Linked DNA regions of Homo sapiens. The protein of the gene in region 1 interacts with the protein of each later gene in a biochemical or structural test. Each region holds a gene or a part of one and is shown in the gene's direction. Other genes may lie near its edges.

The links.
Region 2: the proteins of PKN3 (region 1) and ARHGAP10 form a complex in vitro, tested with the Homo sapiens proteins (one study listed by BioGRID).
Region 3: the proteins of PKN3 (region 1) and PLD1 form a complex in vitro, tested with the Homo sapiens proteins (one study listed by IntAct).

What each region holds. Positions count from the first base shown.
Region 1 is NC_000009.12:128,697,056-128,705,502, forward strand, and holds the start of PKN3 (serine/threonine-protein kinase N3), read left to right. Parts: upstream 1-5,447; 5' UTR 5,448-5,860; coding exon 5,861-5,884; exon of another isoform or gene 5,885-6,369; coding exon of another isoform or gene 6,370-6,414; exon of another isoform or gene 6,415-7,059; coding exon of another isoform or gene 7,060-7,074; intron 7,075-8,045; exon of another isoform or gene 8,046-8,247; coding exon 8,248-8,447.
Region 2 is NC_000004.12:147,874,649-147,883,038, forward strand, and holds part of ARHGAP10 (rho GTPase-activating protein 10), read left to right. Parts: intron 1-372; coding exon 373-502; intron 503-4,583; coding exon 4,584-4,690; intron 4,691-7,189; coding exon 7,190-7,284; intron 7,285-8,390. UniProt on the Homo sapiens protein: GTPase-activating protein that catalyzes the conversion of active GTP-bound Rho GTPases to their inactive GDP-bound form, thus suppressing various Rho GTPase-mediated cellular processes. Also converts Cdc42 to an inactive GDP-bound state.
Region 3 is NC_000003.12:171,599,362-171,605,331, reverse strand, and holds the end of PLD1 (phospholipase D1), read left to right. Parts: coding exon 1-33; intron 34-2,029; coding exon 2,030-2,254; 3' UTR 2,255-4,928; downstream 4,929-5,970. UniProt on the Homo sapiens protein: Function as phospholipase selective for phosphatidylcholine. Implicated as a critical step in numerous cellular pathways, including signal transduction, membrane trafficking, and the regulation of mitosis.

The sequences.
Region 1 (8,447 bases):
TGGTGAGCGTCTAGGGCTGTCAGGTTATAGGTCACAATAACGTTTATTTTCGGGAATGTAAAAAATCGGGAGCCCTTTAAGGTAGTAGTAGTTCACTCAACTATTGTGATCTCCTGAGGTGCCACTAATATCTGCAAATCTTGTAAGAGAACTAGGCTGTGAGAAAACAAAATGGCAACCTTACTGTACCAAAAACTTCCATACACAGTAGCCAGCATGCCTTGTGTCCAACTGCAAGACAAGTTCTTGGGCTGGTCTTTAGTGTGTATTGGAATGGGCTCAGCTCCTTTTCTCAAGGACATTTGAAAATAGAAAATAGAAGTTGGGCACAGTGGCGCATACCTGTAATTGCAGTACTTTGGGAGGCCCAGGCTGAAGGATCGTGTAAGTCCAGGAGCTCTAGGCCAACCTGGATGACAGGGACATCCCAACACTACCATTAAAAAACAAACAAACAAAAAAACAGGTGTGGTGGCGCTAGGCTAATCCTAGCTACTTGAGAGGCTGGGGCAGGATTGCCTTAGCCCAGGAGTTTTGAGGCTGCACTGAGCTATGAGTTTGCCACCGTGCTTCAGCCTGGGCCACAGAGCAAGAAGACCCTGTTCAAAACAAGACAAGAGTAATAATGGCTGTTTAGGAAGGGGCTGTGTTCCCAAGCTGTGCTGTATTTGGTTTATGAGGGGTATTTAATAACTGCATGAATTAGGATGGAGGGCAGTAGCTTGCAAGATGTCCTTACATCTAGTTTCAAAACCTTAAGGAATATTCTGCTTTAGACCATCTCGGTTTTTGTTTCTCCAGTGATTTCATTTTATTTGTTTTTGAGACAGAGGTATCACTCTGTCGCCTAGGCTGGAGTGCAGTGGCACGATCTCAGCTCACTGCAACCTCCACTTAGCAGGTTCAAGCCATTCTTCTGCCTCAGCCTCCTGAATAGCTGGGATTACAGGCACGTATCACCATACCCAGCTAGTTTTCATATTTTAGTAGAGATGGGGTTTCATCGTGTTGGTCAGGCGGGTCTCAAACTCGCGACCTCACGTGATCTGCCCGCCTGGGCCTCCCAAAGTTCTGGGATTACAGGCGTGAGTCACAGTGCCCGGCCAGTCACAAGTTTACTCCTTTTTTTTTTTTTTTTTTTTTTTTTGAGACGGAGTCTGGCTCCGTTGCCCAGGCTGGAATGCAGTGGCATGATCTCTGCTCACTGCAAGCTCCACCTCCCGGGTTCACACCATTCTCCTGCCTCAGCCTCCCGAGTAGCTGGGACGACATGCACTGGCCACCACACTCGGCTAATTTTTTGTATTTTTAGTAGAGACGGGGTTTCACCTTGTTAACCAGGATGGTCTTGATCTCCTGACCTCATGATCCACCCATCTTGGCCTCCCAAAGTGCTGGGATTACAGGCGTGAGCCACCGCGCCCAGCACAAGTTTACTTTTTAATAGGCCTGAGGCAAAGGGCTGCAGAATAGCAAGGACTTTTAAAGTGGAGGGTATAGACCAACTGTAGTTGGTGACATTGTGTGCTCAGATTCTACCCAGAGACAAACCGAAATAAAAATGGACTGGTTGTAGGGCCAGGCGCGGTGGCTCACGCCTGTAATCCCAGCACTTTGGGAGGCTGAGTGGGTGTTCACAAGGTCAGGAGTTCGAGACCAGCCTGGCCAACATGGGGAAACCCCATCTCTACTAAAAATACAAAAATTAGCCAGGCATGGTGGTGGGCGCCTGTAATCCCAGCTACTTGGGAGACTGAGGCAGGAGAATTGTTTGAACCCAGGAGGCGGAGGTTGCAGTGAACTGAGATCGTGCCACTGCACTCCAGCCTGGGCGACAGAGTGCGATGGCGTCTCAGAAAAAACAAAAATTGGTTGCAACACCAAGAAGGAAAAAATTGTATTCATGGAAGGGGGAAAATGTTTCCTCATGCAGCCTGTTGACAAGTTTTAGGTTCCTTTCAGTTGAGTTATAGTCTTTTTTTTTTTTTTTTTTTTGAGATGGAGTTCTGCCCTTTTTACCCAGGCTGTAGTGCAATGGCGCGATCTCAGCTCACCTCAATCTCCACCTCCCGGTTTCAAGCGATTCTCCTGCCTCAGCCTCCTGAGTAGCTGGGATTACAGGCATGCGCCACCACCCCGGCTAATTTTGTATTTTTAGTAGAGACGGGCTTTGTCCATGTTGGTCAGGCTGGTCTTGAACTCCCGACCTTACGTGATCCGCCCGCCTCGGCCTCTCAAAGTGTTGGGATTACAGGCGAGCCGCCGCGCCCAGTGAGTTATAGTCTTTTAAAGGCCAACTGGCTAGAGAGTTGGTTTGCACTATTCACGGTCCACTAAATGCTGAACACGAATTTCCTAAGAATTCCAGTCTTATGAAGTGTTATCACTATCAGAAGTAAGGTGCAACTACCTGGTCAGACTCATCCAGCAGTCCAGGACTTGGCTTCCCTGTGTAAGGTGGTGAAAAACACTCCCCAGGTCGGGCGCGGCAGCCACACCTGTAATCCCAGCACTTTGGTAGGCTGAGGCAGGTGCATCACGTGAGGTCAGGAGTTCGAGACTGGCCTGGCCAACATGGTGAAACCCCATCTCTACTAAAAATATAAAAAATTAGCCAGGTGTGCCGAGCGCGGTGGCTCCCGCCTGTAATCCCAGCACTTTGAGAGGCCGAGGCGAGCAGATCACAAGGTCAGAAGATCGAGACCATCCTGGCTAACACAGTGAAACCCCGTCTCTACTAAAAATACAAAAATTAGCCGGGCGTGGTGGTGGGCGCCTGTAGTCCCAGCTACTCGGGAGGCTGAGGCAGGAGAATGGCGTGAACCCTGGAGGCGGAGCTTGCAGTGAGCCGAGATCAGCCACTACACTCTAGCCTGGGCGAAAGTGCGAGACTCCGTCTCAAAGAAAAAAAAAAAAAAAAAAAAATTAGCCAGGTGTGGTGGCATGTGCCTGTAGTCCCAGCTACTCAGGAGGCTGAGGCATGAGAATCACTTGGACCCGGGAGGTGGAGGTTGCAGTGAGCCAAAATTGAGCCACTGCACTCCAGCCTGGGTGACAGAGCAAGACTCTCTCAAAAAAACAAAAAACAAAGCCACTTTCCAACCAAACTTGGAAAACCATCGAATTCAGCTTCCTGCCTGCAGTGAGTGGATAAATGAGCCGGGAGTTGAGATGTGAGCACCCTCCTATGGAGAGTTATCTCAGATTACTCTTGGCTTCCAGAAGTAACATTTAGCCATCAAGGCAAATACACATTTTAAAGTGTTAATTAGCTGGCTGGACTGATTGCACCACTGGAGAATTCCTAAAAGGTGGGGAAGGCTTGTTAGTTTGATTCCTGGGTTTTTGATGAGCTGCAGTGAGAAGCTGAGGACTTTTTTACTTCTTTATTTTACTTTTTTAAGAGATGGTGTCTCACTATGTTGGCCAGGTTGGTCTTGAACTCTTAGGCCTCAAGCAATCCTCCTGCCTCATCAGCCTCCCAGAGTTCTAGGATTACAGGCATGAGCCACTGGGCTTGGTCAGCCTTTTTGCTTCTAAATGATGGATAATAACGTTCATTTAACCTCCATTTTATTTTATTTTTATTTATTTATTTTTCTTGAGACAGAATCTTGCTCTGTTGCCCAGGCTGGAGTGTAGTGGCGTGATCTTAGCTCGCTGCAACCTCTGCCTCCCAGATTCAGGTGATTTGCCTGCCTCAGCCTCCCGAGTAGCTGGGACTACAGGCGTGCGCTACCACGCCCAGCTAGTTTTTCTAATTTTTTATTTTATGTATTTTTTTGAGATGCAGTTTTGCTCTTGTCATCTAGGCTGGAGTGTAGTGGCGAGATTGGCTTACTGCAACCTCCACTTCCCAGGTTCAAGTGATTCTCCAGCCTCAGCCTCCCTAGTAGCTGGGATTACAGGCACCCACCACCATGCCCAGCTAATATTTTTTTTTTGTAGTTTTAGTAGAGACGGGGTTTCACCATGTTGGCCAGGCTGGTCTCGAACTCCTGACCTTGTGATCCGCCTGCCTCGGCCTCCCAAAGTGCTAGGATTACAGGCGTGAGCCACCGCGCCCAGCTGCCTTTTTAATTTTTTTTTAGCAGAGACGGGATTTCACCATGTTGGCCAGGCTGGTCTTGAACTCCTGACCTTAAGTGATCTGCCCTCCTCAGCCTCCCAAAGTGCTGGGATTACAGGCATGAGCCACCATGCCCAGCCAACCCCCATGTCAAAGAACCTACTATGTGCCAGGTGCTTCTGCTAATGTCTAGACCTCAACAACTCTAATGTGTAAATGTCACATTTCGCCTCTGATTATGAAATCTGGGCATGTTTCACAGAGCCAAGTTGCCTTTGCTTATATGTCAATGCCACTTGGGTGATTTCCCATAGCAGGACAACCCAGTGTTGTCCATGGCTCACCAATTTCACTTTTTTCCAGTCCATTATGAAGGAAGTGATTAGTGCAAAGCACAACATGTGGCTTCCTTCATTCAGTAAGAGCACCAGAGCCTGTCTGTTCCAAGTCACTGTCGGTATTTGACCCTTCATCACCTTCCCACCTCCTGGAGGACGCTCCTCCACGAAGTGCTGACACAACCTCCTGTAAACGCAGGATGCCAGGACGGGCTGAATGGCCCGCCATAGACTAGGCAGTGACCAGCACACCTCCCTTGGGCTGAAATAGTGGCGGCTATTTCACCAGGTGTAAATGGCTTTTCTCCCGTGTGGATGGATGGGCTTTTTAGGGTAAAGCCCTAAAAAGTGGCACGGGCTGAACCAGCAAGCTCAGTCTGAGTAAGAGATGGGCCGGAGAGAGGTCTGGTTCATTCATCTGTAATTTGTAATTTATCATAATTTTGGGTGAGGATTTACTTTTCCACAAGTATACGTTCTTTTTTTTTTTTTTTTTTTTTTTTTGAGATGGAGTCTCGCTCTGTCACCCAGGTTGGAGGGCAGTGGCAGGATCTCGGCTCACTGCAACCTCCGCCTACTGGGTACAAGTGATTCTCCCACCTCAGCCTCCTGAGTAGCTGGGATTACAGGCGCCCGCCACCACGACCGGCTAATTTTTGTATTTTTAGTAGAGACGGGGGTTTCACCATGTTGGCCAGGCTGGTCTCGAACTCCTGACCTCGTGATCCGTCCACCTCTGCCTCCCAAACTGCTGGGATTACAGGCGTGAGCCACCGCACCTGGCCTAGTATACATTCTTGTAGTGACTAATATCTAGTCTGGGCCAACCACTCCGAGGAGAGAGACAATTTTGGATTAGCCCACATTACACCAACAACGTGCGAGACAAAGAGAGACTTGAGGGGCTTGGTCGAGGAGGCCCAGCGCGTTAGAGGCGGGAGCCAGGTTGTAGAGGGGCTCAAAGTTAGAGGAGGCGGCCAGCTCCACCGGCTGCACCCGGCTGGGCGACCCGGCAACCTTCAGGGGGCGCTGTTTCCCCCATCCCTGTCCCTAACTGGCCGGCTCCCGCGGGCGCGCGGCGGGGAAGGCCAGAGGACCTGGGCGCGGGCGATGTGCCTCCTGAGCGTCCAAACCGGGGGTGAGGCGCGGTCACGCCCAGCGGGAACCGCAGGCGCCGAAGCCCGGGTACTGGGCCCAGAATCCCGCGGAATTTTGGATCCGAGGGAGGCGCTGGGGCGCGGGACCTCGGGCGTGGGGTCCCGGGCGCTGGATCGGCGCGGACGGGAGGCGGCGCTGGTCCCGCGGGCCAGCGGGTCTCGGGAGGGGGCGCCCGATCCCGCGTCTCCGGCGCCGCTTCCCGGGAAGTTTCAAGTTTGAAAGTCCTGGCGGAGGGTCTGCGGCTTCCGGGACCGGAGTGGCTGAGAGAAGGGCCCCAAGCGGCCGGAGCGGCGCCATGGAGGAGGGGGCGCCGCGGCAGGTGAACGGCGTGGGAGGGGCGCGCGGGCCCGGGGGGTGCGAGAAAGCCTCTGTCATCGCCCCGGAGCCCCGAACCGCGGCCGCTTCCCCCGATCCTCCCCTCACCCGCGCCCCTTCCCTGCCCCTGCCCTGGCCCCGGCCCCGCGACGCCCTCGCAGAGCAGACCTGATCTCCGGGTTCGGTGGTTCCTGGACCTTGCACAGTCTCCAAATCAGTCCGCGGCTGACCCGGAGACTGAACCCCAACCAGCCCGTGAGCGAGGACGGCTGAGTCCGCAGTGTGCGCCACCAGGGTGGTCCCCAGAGTGTCCTTAAGTCGGTTCTCCTCGGTGGGGCTCCAAGGCCGACGGGAATTAGCCGGGATAGAAAGGCGGGGCACAGGGGCCTGGGGGGGTTAGAATGTGCGCGCAGCGGGGGGCGCAGTCTGTGCGCGCTTGGCAGTGGCAGGAGTCCTTCCCGGAGCACAGGAGGCACGAGGGGAGCGTAGATGAGAGGGGAGCGGCCTCCCCCGCCCCAGGGCGGGAACCTTTGGGTACATAGCGGGTTCTAGAATGCGGAGGGGGCTGGGTTTCCTGCCAGAGCTGGCAGTAGGTGCGCGTGGGCCCGGAGGACCGAGGCCATGTCTATCTGCTCCTGAGGAGGGAGAGGTGGTGTCCTGTTCCGGAGCGAGTGGTTGGGAGGGGGGCATTTGCGGACAGGAGTGGGTCCCCGCAAAGAGCGGAAAGGAGGTGGTGTGTGTGTCCATGTTGGAGTTCCAACCCAGGGCAGACGGGACCATGGGGGTGTTGCGGGGTGCGTGTAGACTCCTTGAGCGCCCAAGCCAGTCGTTTAGGCCGCCTTCAGGGCTGGGGCTCGGTCTGCCCCCTCCCACCCCCTTCCTCTGGAGGTCCCTCCGCCTGTTCCAGACGTAGCTTGTACACATTTTCCGATTTCCTGCGGGGCTCCGCCCTGCAGCGGCAGCTGGGTGACTCAGGACCCCGGTGGCCGGGCCCCCAGCTCCATGGGACCTTTGTTTGCTCCGGTCTTTGGCTCTGGCCCTGTGGCCTAGGGCGGTCAGAGGATTTCCTGAGCCTCGCCCTTGCCCTCTGACAGCTGGGCCAGCAGGCCCCGCTGAGGTCTGGGGTGGGGGGGTCCCTGAGTCTGGGGTTGCGGCCCCTTCCACTGGGCTCAGGAGAAGATGGAACACAGAGAGGTAAGATGGGGTTCCTGCAACAGCCCGTGTTGCGGGGCATCATGGGTTACCCGGCCTGAGGTCACCTTTGGCACCGGTTGGTTTGAAATGCTGGCGGCTGGAAAGGAGGTGTTCCTGTTCCTGGCTCCAACCTGGGTGAAGCCGTGAGAGAGCCTTCTACTTCCTCCCGGGAGCTGAGCAGGGAGTGGGCACCCGGAGACCTCCCCAGTTCCTCTCTGTGCCTCTGCTTTGCTACCTGTGGCATTGGGACATCAGGGGAACAAGCCCTGGCTCCCAGGCCCCTGGCTGCCTTCTCATGTGGCTTCGTGTGAACCCCTATTCGGCGTAGCTTTTGTGGCTCCTGGACTCTACTTTGGGTCCCAGATGTAGAGAGAGCAGCCTGATTACCCAGGGCTGCCAGGGACAGCTGGGGCCCGAGAGATGGTGGCCCCTCCTCTGTGTCTTGACTGTGGGCAAGTTACTTCACCTCTCTGGGCCTCAGTTTCCTCACTAGAAAATAGGGGTAATAGTACAGGCGTGGTGGCTCACACCTGTAATCCCAGCACTTTGGGAGGCCAAGGCAGGTGGATCACCTGAGGTCAGGATTCAAGACCAGCCTGACGAACATGGAGAAACCCCGTCCCTACTAAAAATACAAAATTAGCCGGGCTTAGTGGCGTGTGCCTGTAATCCCAGCTACTCAGGAGGCTGGGGCAGGAGAATCGCTTGAACCCGGGAGGCAGAGGTTGTGGTGAACCGAGATCGTGCCATGGCACTCCAGCCTGGGCAACAAGAGCAAAACTGTCTCAAAAAAAAAAAAAAGAAAAAGAAAAAGAAAAAAGAAAATGGGGGTAATGACCACCGCTACCGGGTGGGGTGGCTGGGAGGAGTGATGTGGTAATATATGCAAAGCACTTAGAATAGAACCTGGCACCCATTTACCGTGTGAACTGTCCCCCCCGCCACATCCTTCTCTAACGGGCGGAGGACAGGAGCCTGGCCTAGATGAGTGGCCTCGGAGTTTCCATCTGGCTCAGGCCTGAGCTCTAAGGGGAGAGAGGCTTCCAAAACCCTGTGCGAGTCAGTCCTGGGTGCCGTCCCTTCCTTCGCCTCCATCTGCAGTGAGCAAAGGCTGCTGGTGGCCGCTGCACCCCATGGCTGTTCTCCACCCTCTGCTTTCCACCGGCTCTGCAGCCTGGGCCGAGCCAGTGGCCCCCAGAGGATGAGAAGGAGGTGATCCGCCGGGCCATCCAGAAAGAGCTGAAGATCAAGGAGGGGGTGGAGAACCTGCGGCGCGTGGCCACAGACCGCCGCCACTTGGGCCATGTGCAGCAGCTGCTGCGGTCCTCCAACCGCCGCCTGGAGCAGCTGCATGGCGAGCTGCGGGAGCTGCA
Region 2 (8,390 bases), on another chromosome or scaffold:
GAAATTCTTCTCAGGTAGCTATATTAAAACCTAACTTATGTTTTAAACCTAAAATTTAGTAATAGTGTGAGACCTGAAGGCAGGAATTTTTATGTTGAATAGTAAAATTATTAATGGTGTTAGAAAGCCTCCAAAGTAACCTGTAGTAACCTTGGCTTATACTCCTCTGGTAGCTATTTTACTGCTATTTTTTTTTCTTTGCACATGAATCTCAGGAGGCACACTGGAAAGAATGGGGGTATTTTGAGAAATTTATAAAAAAGTTATTTAGAGTTAAAAAATGTAATTACATTTATGCAGAGACTTTAAAATGTTCATGAGAAAACTCATATGAGAACTTAACATTTATGTGTGTTTTTTAATCCATTTCAGACACGGAATCGATTTGAAGGAACAAGGTCAGAAGTGGAAGAGCTCATGAACAAAATCAGACAGAATCCCAAGGACCACAAACGAGCAAGTCAGTTTACAGCCGAAGGCTACCTGTATGTCCAGGAAAAAAGTAAGAGGCCCTCCAGCAGTGGCTGCGTGGCTGCTTAAAAATGCAAATTATTGAAAACTCTGCTATTCTTGCCATTACTGTGACATTTTGGGCAATTATTCCTACCTCTTTCTCTCCCTGCTCCTATCACCTAATGGGTGTATATTTCATGTTTAGGAGAAACACATTCCAGCCCTGGAGAGAGGGGGTACTGTGAGGTTAGGAGTGGCTGTGAGCACCCTGTTCTTCAGACACCCCACTAGCTTCTGTTTTACACTGTGTGCACCCCAGGAACATGCTTGTAAGAGAGTCAGAATTTGGTGTAAGGCTGAAAATGAGCCAGAGTTACGAGGGTATGATGTTTTTTCTCCTTCCCCCTCACCTCTACCCTCATCACCAATGCACACAGGCACACACATTCATTCATACACACGTATACGTCCTCTCCCTCCCATAACCCTGCCTCTCTGTCATCTTAAGGTCAAGAGGGACATATTAGTATTTTTCTTCTTCCTTCATACCATTTTTGTTCCCACCAGTCTGAGATAGCTGGTTCTTACTAAAATCATCAGGAAGATTGCAGATGGTGATAAAAGATATTCCTACGTGGCATCCTAACTTGTAGGCTTTTTAGTCTTTGTTGCTGTCTTAGCAAATATGCAGTGCATAGATTGTTCTCATTTTGAAAATTAAAAGACCTGTATTTCTTTCAGACTTTGAACATTTGGTCTTATTTTAACAGCTAAGTTCTTAACGTTTACTACGTCAACTGTACAACCCAATTGCTAGTTAGCAGAAGGGATGAGAATGTGAAATGGGTCTCTTTACTATTTCCCTCCCTCTCCACCCTTAACTGTGATTAGGGTGTTTTACAGTTTTCACTTCATTTAAGTGTGGCTGATTTACAGGACTTTCAATCCGACCTAAAAATTTAGTGGTAGACATGACTCAGGGAACGGTTACAGGGTATCTGTGCTTTGAATAGAAGTTAATGTTCTATGCAGGCAGCAGGATGGTTGTGCCTTTTCCATTTGCCCTTATTTAATCTGGAATCTCGCAGCCTTCACCTTTTGTGAGCAGTTGTATGATATGGCAGAAGTCTCCATTTTTCTCATACATTATCTTCTTAATCTCAGTTTTTAAAATTGAATTTGAAAGAAATAAATTAAAACTCAAGATAGGGCTGGGCGCGGTGGCTCACACTTGTAATCCCAGCACTCTGGGAGGCCGAGGTGGGCAGATCACGAGGTCAGGAGATCGAGACCATCCTGGCTAATACAGTGAAACCCTGTCTCTACTAAAAAATACAAAAAATCAGCAGGGCGTAGTGGCGGGCACCTGTAGTCCCAGCTACTCGGGAGGCTGAGGCAGGAGAATGGCGTGAACCTGGGAGGCGGAGCTTGCAGTGAGCCAAGATCGCGCCACTGCACTCCAGCCTGGGTGACAAAGCAAGACTCTGTCTCAAAAAAAGGAAAAAAACAAAACAAAACAAAAAACCACCTCGATAGTCTTGAGAATGTTAGAATTATTTGTATTATATGCCCAAGTGAAAATCACAGGAAACTTTAATTTTTAGATTCATCACTGTTGCCTTTGAGAGAAATTGGACTGAAACAACATAACAGTAGTGGTAAAATTCTTTCCTCATTTACTGTATACCCAGCACTGTGCTAAATTCGTATACAACTTGTCTCATTTATCCATAAAACAGCCCTATGAAGTATAAGGTACTATTACTGTTGCCCATTTATAAATGAAAATGGAGGCACTGAGAGGTAAATAATGTTCCCTAGGTCATACAACTACTAAATGCTGGAGTTGTCATTCTGAACCTGGAGTCTGTGTTGGTAATGTCTCCCGTAAATTGCTTGGCGCTTGAACAGGCGTGAAAGAGCATCATTAGTGTGTATGCCCAGAGCTGGTTGAATAGGCCCTGTTGGTTGTCAGAAGGGAATGGTGGCTTAAGTAGTGGAAAGACCTTGATATTTGGGGCCAGAGATTCTGATTTAAGGTTTGGCTTTGTCATTTTCCAGGCATTTGGGCTAAGCTTAAATTTTTTTTGGATTAAATAGACAGTATCATCCTCTCTGGGCAGTTTTTTTTTTCTTAGAGTTAAATAAAATATCTGTGCAATATTTTTTTTGTCAACCATAGAACACAGTACAAATGCTGGTTCTTTAAAACACAAAGCAATGTTTCCCAAATTCAGGTCTTTGGACTGATGATGGTCTGAGATAAAATTGATAGTGGTCTGGTAACCCTTTTCATCTATTACCCCTGTCCCAAATAATGTAATTAGCTTTTCCTAAAGCTAGCTAAAAGCATTCCTTTTACATGAGTTATTTTTCCCCTCCTGGGCTTTTTTGATTTTTAGGTGTAGAAACTTTGTTTGTTTGTACATGAAATTACTGTGATAACAGATGTTAATTGCTTTTTTAAAAGTGTCTTGACTCAGTAAAGTAAGAAATTGTCAACTTCTGCTGGGCCTAACCTTTAATTTGTTATGGTTGGACTTTTATTGGCATGTGAAGTTCCAGATGCTAGAGGTCCCTCTGACATACAGCATTGTCCTGTGAGCCCTGATGGTGGTACTGCTGACTTAGTAAGAGTGGAAAAGGGGTTCAGAGAGTGTTCTGGGGCATACTTGGACAGTCACTCCTATTGAGTCTTAGATTTCTTATTCTTCATACTTTTTTTTTTTTTTTGCTGAGATTACAGGCATGAGCCACGAGGCCCAGCCATTCTCTTGGTTCTTAAGATTTTTTTAGACCTTACTGATTACAGTAATGTTAAGCCAGACAATACCAATGTTATTTTATTTTATTTTTTGACAGTGTTGCTCTGTCACCCAGGCTGGAGGGCAGTGGCACGATCTCATCTCACTGCAACTTCCGCCTCCTGGGTTCAAGCCATTCTTCTGCCGCACCCTCCCCAGTAGCTGGGATTACAGGCACGCACCACCACGCCCAGCTAATTTTTTTTTTTTTGGAGACAGAGCCTCTGTCACCCAGGCTGGAGTGCAGTGGCGCGATCTCAGCTCACTGCAACCTCTGCCTCCTGGGTTCAGCCTATTCACCTGCCTCAGCCTCCCGAGTAGCTGGGACTACAGGCGCGTGCCACCACGCCTGGCTAAATTTTTTGTATTTTAGTAGAGACAGGGTTTCACAACGTTGGCCAGGATGGTCTCCATCTCCTGACTTCGTGATCCACCCGCCTTGGCCTCCCAAAGTGCTAGGATTACAGGCGTGAGCCACTGCGCCTGGCCCATACTTCATTTTTAAAGGCTAGCTTTCAATCATCAGTAAGAGCAGCTGCTTACTAGGATGCTGTTCATGGACTTAAAGCACTAGGTGGATTTTTAGACTAGATGCTTCTTAGCACTATGATTCTATAATTCTATCATTTTGAGAGGCCAGAATTAAATCCCAAACCATCTCATATATGGGATGGAACTTTTGAAACCCTTGTGAGCTCTTAATACCTAGAAACAAACAAAAAATAGAGCTTACAATTAAGAGATTTTCAGATAGGACATAACTGTTGATTTTTCTAGCAAACTATTTAAACAGTATGTCTTTAAATCACTTCTGTCTTGCTAAATCTTAGAGGTTTGTTTCAAAGTATCTCTTATTTTCCTTCTTCCTCTTTTTTTTTTTTTTTTTTTTGAGTCGGAGTCTCGCTCTGTTGCCCAGGCTGGAGCGCAGTGGCGCGATCTCGGCTCACTGCAAGCTCTGCCTCTTGGGTTCACACCATTCTCCTGCCTCAGCCTCCCGAGTAGCTAAGACTATAGGCGCCTGCCACTATGCCTGGCTAATTTTTTTTAGTAGAGATGGAGTTTCACCGTGTTAGCCAGGATGGTCTCGATTTCCTGACCTTGTGATCCACCCGCCTCGACCTCCCAAAGTGCTGGGATTACAGGCGTGAGCCACCGTGCCCGGCCTCCCCTCTTCTTCTTAGAACTAGCAGTATTGCTGATTTGTTTCATTGATTCAGCTGTATTCGTTGCTGCGTTTTAGACATTTCCTCTTTAGTAATGTGTTTATAGCTCTGCAAATCTGCTTATTTATGAGGGAAAATATAAAGGGCTGTTTTTTTGTTGAAGGGCCTGCTCCGTTTGGTTCCAGTTGGGTCAAACACTATTGCATGTATCGAAAAGCAGCAAAGAAGTTCAACATGATCCCATTTGAGCACAGATCTGGAGGGAAACTTGTAAGTATTTGATTCAACATAGAATAGATTATAATCTGTCAGAGGTAGTGTTTGAGGGTGTCATTTTAATGGTTTATATTTTAATGGTTTATATTCATGGATGGTAAATAAATTGTTAGTATTAAAATCTTTGTTTTGTTTTTGAGTGAAATGGGCCAGAAGACAGAACAATATATATGTTTTCTGAATTACATGCATGGGTTTTAAACCACTAGATTTTTTTTTTTTTAAGTTCTGGGATACATGTGCACAACGTGCAGGTTTGTTACATAGGTATGCATGTGTCATGGTGATTTGCTGCACCCATCAACCCATCATCTACATTAGATATTTCTCCTAATGCTATCCCTCCCCTAGCCCCCAGCCCCCTCACAGACCCCAGTGTGTGATGTTCCCCTCCCTGTGTCCATGTGTTCTCATTGTCAGCTCCCACTTAAGAGTGAGAATATGTGGTTTTAACCACTAGATATTTTTTAGGTGAACAATAGAATCCTTTTTATGCCACTGTTTGGAAGATAAAGGTAACACTGACAGCAAGCTTTCATGACTCAGTGGTTCCTCAGCATTTATACAATGGAACTGACTTGCTGTTCATAGCCTGAAAACAAAGAAGAGTGATCTACGATAAATTTTACTGTTGTTCTGTTCATCTTACAAAGTTCTCACATAGGTATTCACCATTTAGTTAACTGTTCCCCCTGAAACTAAAACAGCAAAGCATGATAGTAAGAAAAGAGCAAGAAGACCTCACAGAGTTGGCTGTGTAGGAAAGGTGATCTTTATATGTATTTTAAATGGAATCTGCAGCTTATTACAATAATTAATGGCCTAGAGACAAAGCTTCCCACCAATGTTGAACATAATTGATAACACATTTTAAGAAAGCAGCTTAATTCATTGCTTACTGGGTGAATGGGTATGGTTTTGCTTAGGTGAATAAAAAAAGAAAAACCTATGTTCACTTCTATTTACTTGTACTATGCCTTTCCCTGAAAAATATTTAAAGCAGCTTTTAATAAAAACACATTTATATAATAATGAAACAGACATGGAAAATTAGTCATGGTGAGGAGAAGGAAGTGAGGAGATGGCTCTTGAAGCATCAGGTTTGAGACTGAGTTTCCTGTCAGAGCCAGTTCAAGTCCTAAGATATTTCTGCTTAGTGATATCTTTCTGTTTTAGCCTCCAAATAATAATGATAAATATGTTATGGAATATAACTGTGAGATTTTGAATATTTGTGTATCTTAATGTTTGTTACTTAGAGATCTTCACGTTCTGGAAAATGTTAAAATGTTCAATAAGTGTGTACTCACACTTTATATAGTTGTTCTTTTACTGAGCACTTGTATTTCTGCATTGCAAATTAAGTAAAGATAAATTCAGGGTGATTCACATAGGGAAGAGAGAAATTGCATAGATTAAATGGTTCTAGCTTTAGATTATGAAAATATTTAATCTAGGGTTATCGGTGTACTTTTAGGCTGACGTGTATGGAATTGCAATTTTTATAGGCCAAAAATAGTCACATATTTTTTGTGACATGTGGTAAGAAATAAATTTTTACACTAAAAAAAAGAGTACAATAAGAGACTAACAGTATTCCAGTATCTTAAAACTGTACTGTTAATCTACCTTTGAAAATTAACATTTGGCCAGGGACACTGGCTCACGCCTGTAATCCCAGCACTTTGGGAGGCCGAGGTGGGCAGATCACTTGAGGTCAGGAGTTTGAGACTGGCCTGGCCAACATGGTGAAATCCTGTCTCTACTAAAAATACAAAAATTAGCCAGTCATGGTGATGCACACCTGTAATCCCAGCTATTTGGGTGGCTGAGTCACAGAGTTGCTTGAACCCAGGATTCGGAGTTTGCAGTGAGCTGAGATTGCACCACTGCACTCCAGCCTGGGCAACAGAGCAAGACTGTCAAAAAAAAAAAAAAGTAACATTGGTATTGTCTGGCATAACATTACCATCATCAGTAAGGTCTAGAAAATCTTAAGAATCAAGAGAATGGCTGGGCGCGGTGGCTCACGCCTGTAATCCCAGCACTTTGGGAGGCTGAGGCGGGTGGATCATCTGAGGTCAGGAGATTGACACCAGCCTGGCCAACATGGTGAAACCCTGTTTCTACTGAAAATACAAAAATCATCCAGGTGTGGTGGTGCATGCCTGTAATCCCAGCTACTCTGGAGGCTGAGGCAGGAGAATCACTTGAACCTGGGAGATGGAGGTTGCAGTGAGCCAAGATCCTGCCACTGCACTCCAGCCTGGGTGAAAGAGCGAGGCTCCCTTCTCAAAAGAATCAGGAGAATGACAAAAATATTAATATTTTAGATTCTAAATAGCATTTAAATAAGCCAGTTTGAAAGAGGATAGGGTAAAGAGAAGGACTTAAGATCTTGAACCTTGCTCCCCTGCTCTCCAGTATAGAATGGCTGAGTGTGTATATACTTATCCTGTAGGTTTTGAGAATGTTCAAAATGATTATTTGCAGGGGGACGGAGAGGTGTTCTTTTTGAAAGAATGTACCAAGAGGCATACTGACTCCATTGACAGAAGGTTTTGTTTTGACATAGAAGCTGCTGATCGGTAAGTTATTGGAATTATTGGACATGGTGAAAGAGTCGTTTTAAAAAAATGATTTAAAAAAATAGAGGTTAGTTGCAACTGTGATTTCTGTGGCCTGGGAGAATGTTATCTTGCTATATTTCCAGGCTGTGTGTTCATTATAAGCTGTTTAGTCTTGATCACCGGGTTTAGCTATGGGGTGATAGTTTCATCTTGATTTAGTTAGGAGTCATTCTAACCAGGGTTGTCACTTAAAAAATAACCTTGGAGGCCAGGTGCAGTGGCTCACACCTGTAATCCCAGCACTTTGGGAGGCCGAGGTGGGCAGATTATGAGGTCAGGAGTTCAAGACCATCCAGGCCAAAATGGTGAAACTCTGTCTCTACTAAAAAGACAAAAAAATTAGCCAGGCGTGGTGGCATACACCTGTAGTCCCAGCTACATGGGAGGCTGAGGCAGGAGAACCATTTGAACCCAGGAGGCGGAGGCTGCAGTGAGCCAAGATGGTGCCACTGCACTCCAGCCTGGGCGACAGAGTGAGACTCCGTTTCAAAAAAAAAAAAAATTGCCTTGGAGCTTTTCATTGTTGATCCAAGCCTAATTTGTAGCATGAAGAGAACAATGGCGAGAGGAACTGGGTGACAAAGCTAAAAAGGGGTGATAGGTAGCTAGCTACTAATACAGAACAACATTCATTTGTGTGTGGGGGGGTTTTCAGTGTCTACATCCTGTACGTGATGGAGGGTCTTAGGCAAACTCCTTCTGTTTATTCAAAGGTGAATTCTTTTTTTTCCTTATTGCATGACTTCCAGTTATTTAGTTGTAAAAGAATCTTTGCCAGAGAGGAAGAAGTAGAAGAGAAAATTTTGTTCATCAGTATTACTACTTGTCTGGCATTAATTTCTATGTCCTCCAGTAGCATTAAGGAAAATCCTAGTGTTCATAGAATATTTGCTTTTTAATGGCTGACAGTACAGTGATTCCTTGCCAGCCCTGGTTTTGGCAGTGATAGTTTTTAGGTAAGGCTGTTCTATGTTTGTATAATAAAAGCTTATGAGATTTGTTAAAGCAAAAGTTCAGGTCAGAACCCAGGAATACAAAAGTAATTAATGCTGCTTCCTCTCTTA
Region 3 (5,970 bases), on another chromosome or scaffold:
ACAGCAGCTCGAAATGCTACAATTTATGACAAGGTGAAGTTCACGTATTCCCCTCCTCCGTTTCTTTTCACTGAATCTCATCACAAAAAGCATATTGTTATTTCTGCATATTATTGGTACAGGGTATTCTTAATAAACGTAAAAAAGCTAATACATGTCCAGGTTGTAATAAAATACCTCTTTGTGGACCCTGAAAAACAAAGGCAAAAAGCATTGTGGATTTTGGTTTAGAAGAGGCTTTAGCAGCATTCCAGTCTCTCCTGTGATGCAGGAATCCCATCAGCAGCATCCTTAGCACCTGGTTACCCAGCCTTTGTACATGTCTAGTGACAAAGAGAAGAGGGGCAGATGGCATAAAAAAACAAGCCACAGCTGAGTCCAGCCTAGCTCACCCCGTTGCTGGTGTTATAACCTTGTGTATAGTGACTTAACTTTCTGAGTTTCTTTTTCCTCTCCTATAAATTGGGAGGAATATTCACAAGGGTAGTTATGAGGACAAAGAATAGTCTAGTGAATGGTTTTAGCACATAGTGTATAGTAAACAGTATTCATCCTTATGATGAATCTTGTTAATATTAATAACAAGACATGTCATTTGTTGGACAGCTCTAGTTTTAGAAAGGTGTTTTAAAACCGGCTCCATTTGATGCATACCAAATGCATTGCCTGTGAAGTCTATCCTTTGGTTATAATAAAGAATGTAAAAGAGTTAAGAGTTGCGTAACAGTAGAACAGCTTACTTCGAAAAGTAGCTAGTTGCCCATCAGGGAAAACTATTCAAGCTGTGTTCTAGCCCAGACTAATTGACCATCTGTGAGAAGTTGGATAAGTCTGTGTTCTTCTTCATGACTTCCAGGGACAGACGTGAACCTCTTTAAAAAAAAAAATTAGGGAAAATACGCAATTTTTCTCTTAGAGCCCCTTCCAGCAGAGAAACTTATTATTCTTAATGAAACATGTCTACTGTCTGTATAACCTTGTTTCTTTTCTTTCTTTCCTTTTTTTTTTTTTTTTAATTGACATGGAGTCTCACCCTGTTGCCCAGGCTGGAGTGCAGTGGCATGATCTCGGCTCACTGCAATTTCTACCTCCTGGGTTCAAGTGATTCCCCTGCCTCAGCCTCCCGAGTAGCTGGGCCTACAGGTGCCCACCAGCACACCCAGCTAATTTTTGTATTATGATACAGGCTGGTCTTGAACTCCTGACCTCAAGTGATCCGCCTGCCTTGGCCTCTCAAAGTGCTAGGATTACAGGCATGACCCAATGCGCCTGACCCCTGTATAACCTTATTTCATCCTTATTTCATGGACCGAAGGCCATGATCAAATAGGTCATGTGCATAGAGTCATTAAAATGTAATTTTACAAATGCAGTGCACAGCCTTATTTGGGTCCTGGATTTGGGGGAAAACATCTATAAAAGACATTTTGGGGATAACAGGATAAATCTGAATATGAAGCATAACTTAAATGACATTATATAATTAATTTTCTTAGGTGTGAGAATAGTGCTGTGATTATATAGGCACATGTCCTTATTCTTAAGACATACCTGCAGAGAAGTATTCAGGGGTGAAGTGTTATGATATCCAAAACTCATTTTCAACCAGCAAAGTAAGTGTTACATATTAACAATTGATAATGCTATGTAAAGGTACAGATATGAGCCTCTTTCAAGAAAAGTTAGGGAAAATATAATATGCAATATTCCTCTTAGACCAGAAGCTCCAGTGAAATTCAGGGATGATTATTATCCAAAAAAAATTAACCTTAATGTGGGGTAACATTAGTGTAATTTCTTGCCACTAACCATGATTTTTTAAATGGAAGCAGATCTATCTGTTTGTAGCAGATCTATCTATTGTTGGTTATAAGATAACCAACTCTTAAATCAGGTCTGTGCTGTAACATAAGACTAATAATATGTTTCATACAACAGAGGTCTTGTCTGTTGGAATAATTATTTTCCATAAAGGCCATGTGCTCGCTTTTAAACTTTTCACTCATTTTTCTATTTATGCTCTAATCAGGTTTTCCGGTGCCTTCCCAATGATGAAGTACACAATTTAATTCAGCTGAGAGACTTTATAAACAAGCCCGTATTAGCTAAGGAAGATCCCATTCGAGCTGAGGAGGAACTGAAGAAGATCCGTGGATTTTTGGTGCAATTCCCCTTTTATTTCTTGTCTGAAGAAAGCCTACTGCCTTCTGTTGGGACCAAAGAGGCCATAGTGCCCATGGAGGTTTGGACTTAAGAGATATTCATTGGCAGCTCAAAGACTTCCACCCTGGAGACCACACTGCACACAGTGACTTCCTGGGGATGTCATAGCCAAAGCCAGGCCTGACGCATTCTCGTATCCAACCCAAGGACCTTTTGGAATGACTGGGGAGGGCTGCAGTCACATTGATGTAAGGACTGTAAACATCAGCAAGACTTTATAATTCCTTCTGCCTAACTTGTAAAAAGGGGGCTGCATTCTTGTTGGTAGCATGTACTCTGTTGAGTAAAACACATATTCAAATTCCGTATACCAAAATCCATTTCCTTTGTAACAAGAATTTACCAGTAACTGTGATCTAGGTTGCCAAAAGTTGTCTGAATCTCCTTATTCTTCTCTGATCTTCATTTATGCAGCCAATGTCTAGCTGGACCTGCCCTCATCTTGCAGTTCATACAGGCACTGTTTGAGAGATTGTTTATTATTAGATGTTGTAATGCTGCTTCAAGATTCTTCATGGTTACATGGGATGCCCCTGCTCATCTGGTCCTGAAGTAGTAACATTCACCCAAATGAGGATATAGTCATTATTCCTTTTCAGTCACTGTACGAACACGGCAGACTTTAGCCTACACAGTAGACTGTGTTAGGCACTTCTGGTAACATTGACACTGTATCTTGACACCACTAAGCAACAGGAAGGAATAAATTCCAATATTGAGACAGAGATTTATTTCATTTTGCTCCCAAAGGCACTGACAACATGAGTCCTTGTGATTAGGCCCACCTGATCAAATGTAAAAACATGCATGGGATATTTGATTACGTAACAACCAGCTAAAACTGAGAGCACACAGCCTTCGGAAACCCCCAAGGTGTCGAGGAGGATCAGATCCAGATAAGAGAAGATGATTCCTTCTAGTCCTGTAAAATTTCCTGTCATCCTTAGCTGCTGGGTTGATTGAAATTTGATCTCTACATTTCAAAATCAAACTAGTGAATACAGTTTGTCTTTCAAGAGAATCAGAGGCATCGTAACTCCTACCAAGTTAGTAAGTATGAGTCTAACCTTGTTTGACATTCAGGTCTTCTGCTACATTATCTTCTTTGAGAAAAATTAATTGATTATAAAATATGTGCTACTTCACTTACATTATTAAATATGTATTAACGCCTCTCACCAGGGCTTCCAGTGAAGTTACAATGCCCTAGTCTGTGAATTAGTCTGGAAACGTGTTTTTCCTTTTCGGATGTTAGAGTACCCTTTGATAAACTAAATTTTACTAAGCTGAACAACTCTGACAGTCTAAAGAGCTAATGTGGGTTACCAAAAGGCCTGTACCTGTAAAACAAAATGCAGGTGTAATGATTATACATGTCTATGGATTACCTGGACATACTCTCATTTGGGTTGTTCTTCAAAGAAGCAAGCAGCCGATCCCTGTTTTCATAAAGCTAATACTTCAGTTGGAAAAATTAAACAGGAGCACAAAGTCAGGGATAGGGGTTAGCAGAAGAGAGAAATAGTGTCACATCAAGGGCAGGATCTCATAGCTAGGGAACATTTCACAAATAAGGTGAGATTTTGTAACCAATAATAAAAATGAATGTTTTTATAAGTAAATAACTTATTTTTCATATGGCTAAAGATGGTAAAATGACTTCATTCTATAGCCATTGTAAATAAGAATTTGCTATTGATGAAAGAAGTTCAGATTGGCATTTGAAGTATTGAGTGTATGGGATCTCTAAGGATTTCTTAGATTTTATATTTAAATATTTTTTAAACCTTAGAGGAGTCAACAAACTGGCTCTTGATTTTCAGCACCCTACTCTCATGAAAAAAGCCTGAAAGGACCCTTTCCCTTATAAGTAATTTAATCCAATTTCTCCCCATTTTATAGATGAGGAAACTGAGGCTCAGATCAGATGAGAACTCACTTAAATCCACTCAATGTGTAGATGGTAGAGCTGGGACTAGCAACATTGCTGCAGCCCATTGTTGGCCTCTCTCTTCACTTTATCATTGCCCAAGAATGAGGATATGCAGTAAACAGAATTCAGGCAAGATACCTCTAAGCTGTTTTGAACCCTCTGATATTTTGTATTTATGTGTTTGTCTGTCTCCCCCTACTAGAATGTAAGCTCCATGGGGCAGGGACTTCACTGTATTTTGTTCATAGTGTATCCCCAGAGCCTGGACCAGTGCTTGGCACATAGGAGATGGCAATAAATGCTTGTAGAATTAATAAACAAGGTGAAGGAGAGAGCTAATGAAATGAAAATCTTAGTCTCATATAAGAAGTCTTACTACTGCTTTCTATGGCAAGTTCCTTTTCTATTGCATCTTCCCAAAGACAAGATGCTCATCTGCAAAGGGGTGATAAGATTTACTTGGAGGGATTTTATGGAAAATTCAGTGCAATAATTGCTTTTTTTTTTTTTTTTGCAGTAGCAGTTTACATAGTACAGCATTCTGCAAAAATTGCATGAAATGTGGACACAAGATGTACTGTATGACTTAATTACCTGTCATTCTCTGACACCATTACTACCTACTAGAAGTTCAAATAATTTATCTTTAACATTGCAATATCTGATAAACTTTTTAAAATGTAAATAATTCAAAGCCTTGAAAATCTATCATGAATCTGCTCAACATTTCAAAGTGACTATTTTGAAATGCCTATAAATGCTATATACCTGACATCCTGCTAATTTCTGTAATAATTTTTGTTTTCAAGAGGGAAAAATTCTAGTATTACAAAAAATGAATGATGGAAAGTGGCCATGGTGTATTAAAGCTATTCAGATTGGCCACGTTCAGTCGTCGGAGGATAGCCTTAGCATAGCAAGTCTGGTGCGGGCGTTTGTTCTGAATCTAGTGTCCAGCCCATGACTCACCCTTCGGTGGGATGTTTTTAATTCTTACCTGGAATGCATCACAGGGAGGCATAGAGAGCTGGTCATTAGATAATTGTGTGGCATACTGTAAAACAAAATGTTTATTTTCAAAGCACTTTTGAAAGGAAATTTTGTCTGTAAGTACTCAAAATATGGACAGTTAATTTCTTATGTAAGAACTTGGGAAATTATAATATCATGAATTAATACTTTTCCAGACAAAAACAACAAGCTGAGAAGTCATTTTGCGGATATAAGACTAGGAAAAATAGATTTATGTATATAGAGCCTGAACTTTTTCTGCATCTCCTCATTTCTTTTTTTTTCTTTTTCTTTGTTTTCTTTTCTCTTTTTTTTTTTTTTTTTTTTTTTTTTTTTTGAGACTGGGTCTTGCTCTGTGGCCCAGGCTGGCAGTGGTGTGATCTCAGCTCACTGCAGCCTCTGCCTCCTGGGCTCAAGCAATCCTCCCACCTTAGCCTCCTGAGTAGATGGGACTACAAGTGCATGCCACTACACCCAGCTAATTTTCGTATTGTTTGTACAGATAGCATTTTTCCATCCCAATGCCAAGCAGGCGGATTGCTTGAGCTCCCTCCCCTGTGCTGGGATTGCAGGCGTGAGCCACCGCACTGGCCTCCTCATTCCTTATTCCTTCAGTCTCTATCCCCTACCACAGCACCTTCTTGTTATGTAAAAATTATTTCAAAAGACAAGAAAAAGTATTCTGGAAAAAAAATCAGGCCTTATATTAGTCTGCTCAGGCTGCCAAAACAAGATGCTCTAGACTGGGTGACTTAAACAACAGAAATTTATTTTCTGACAATTCCAGAGACAGGAAGTTGGAA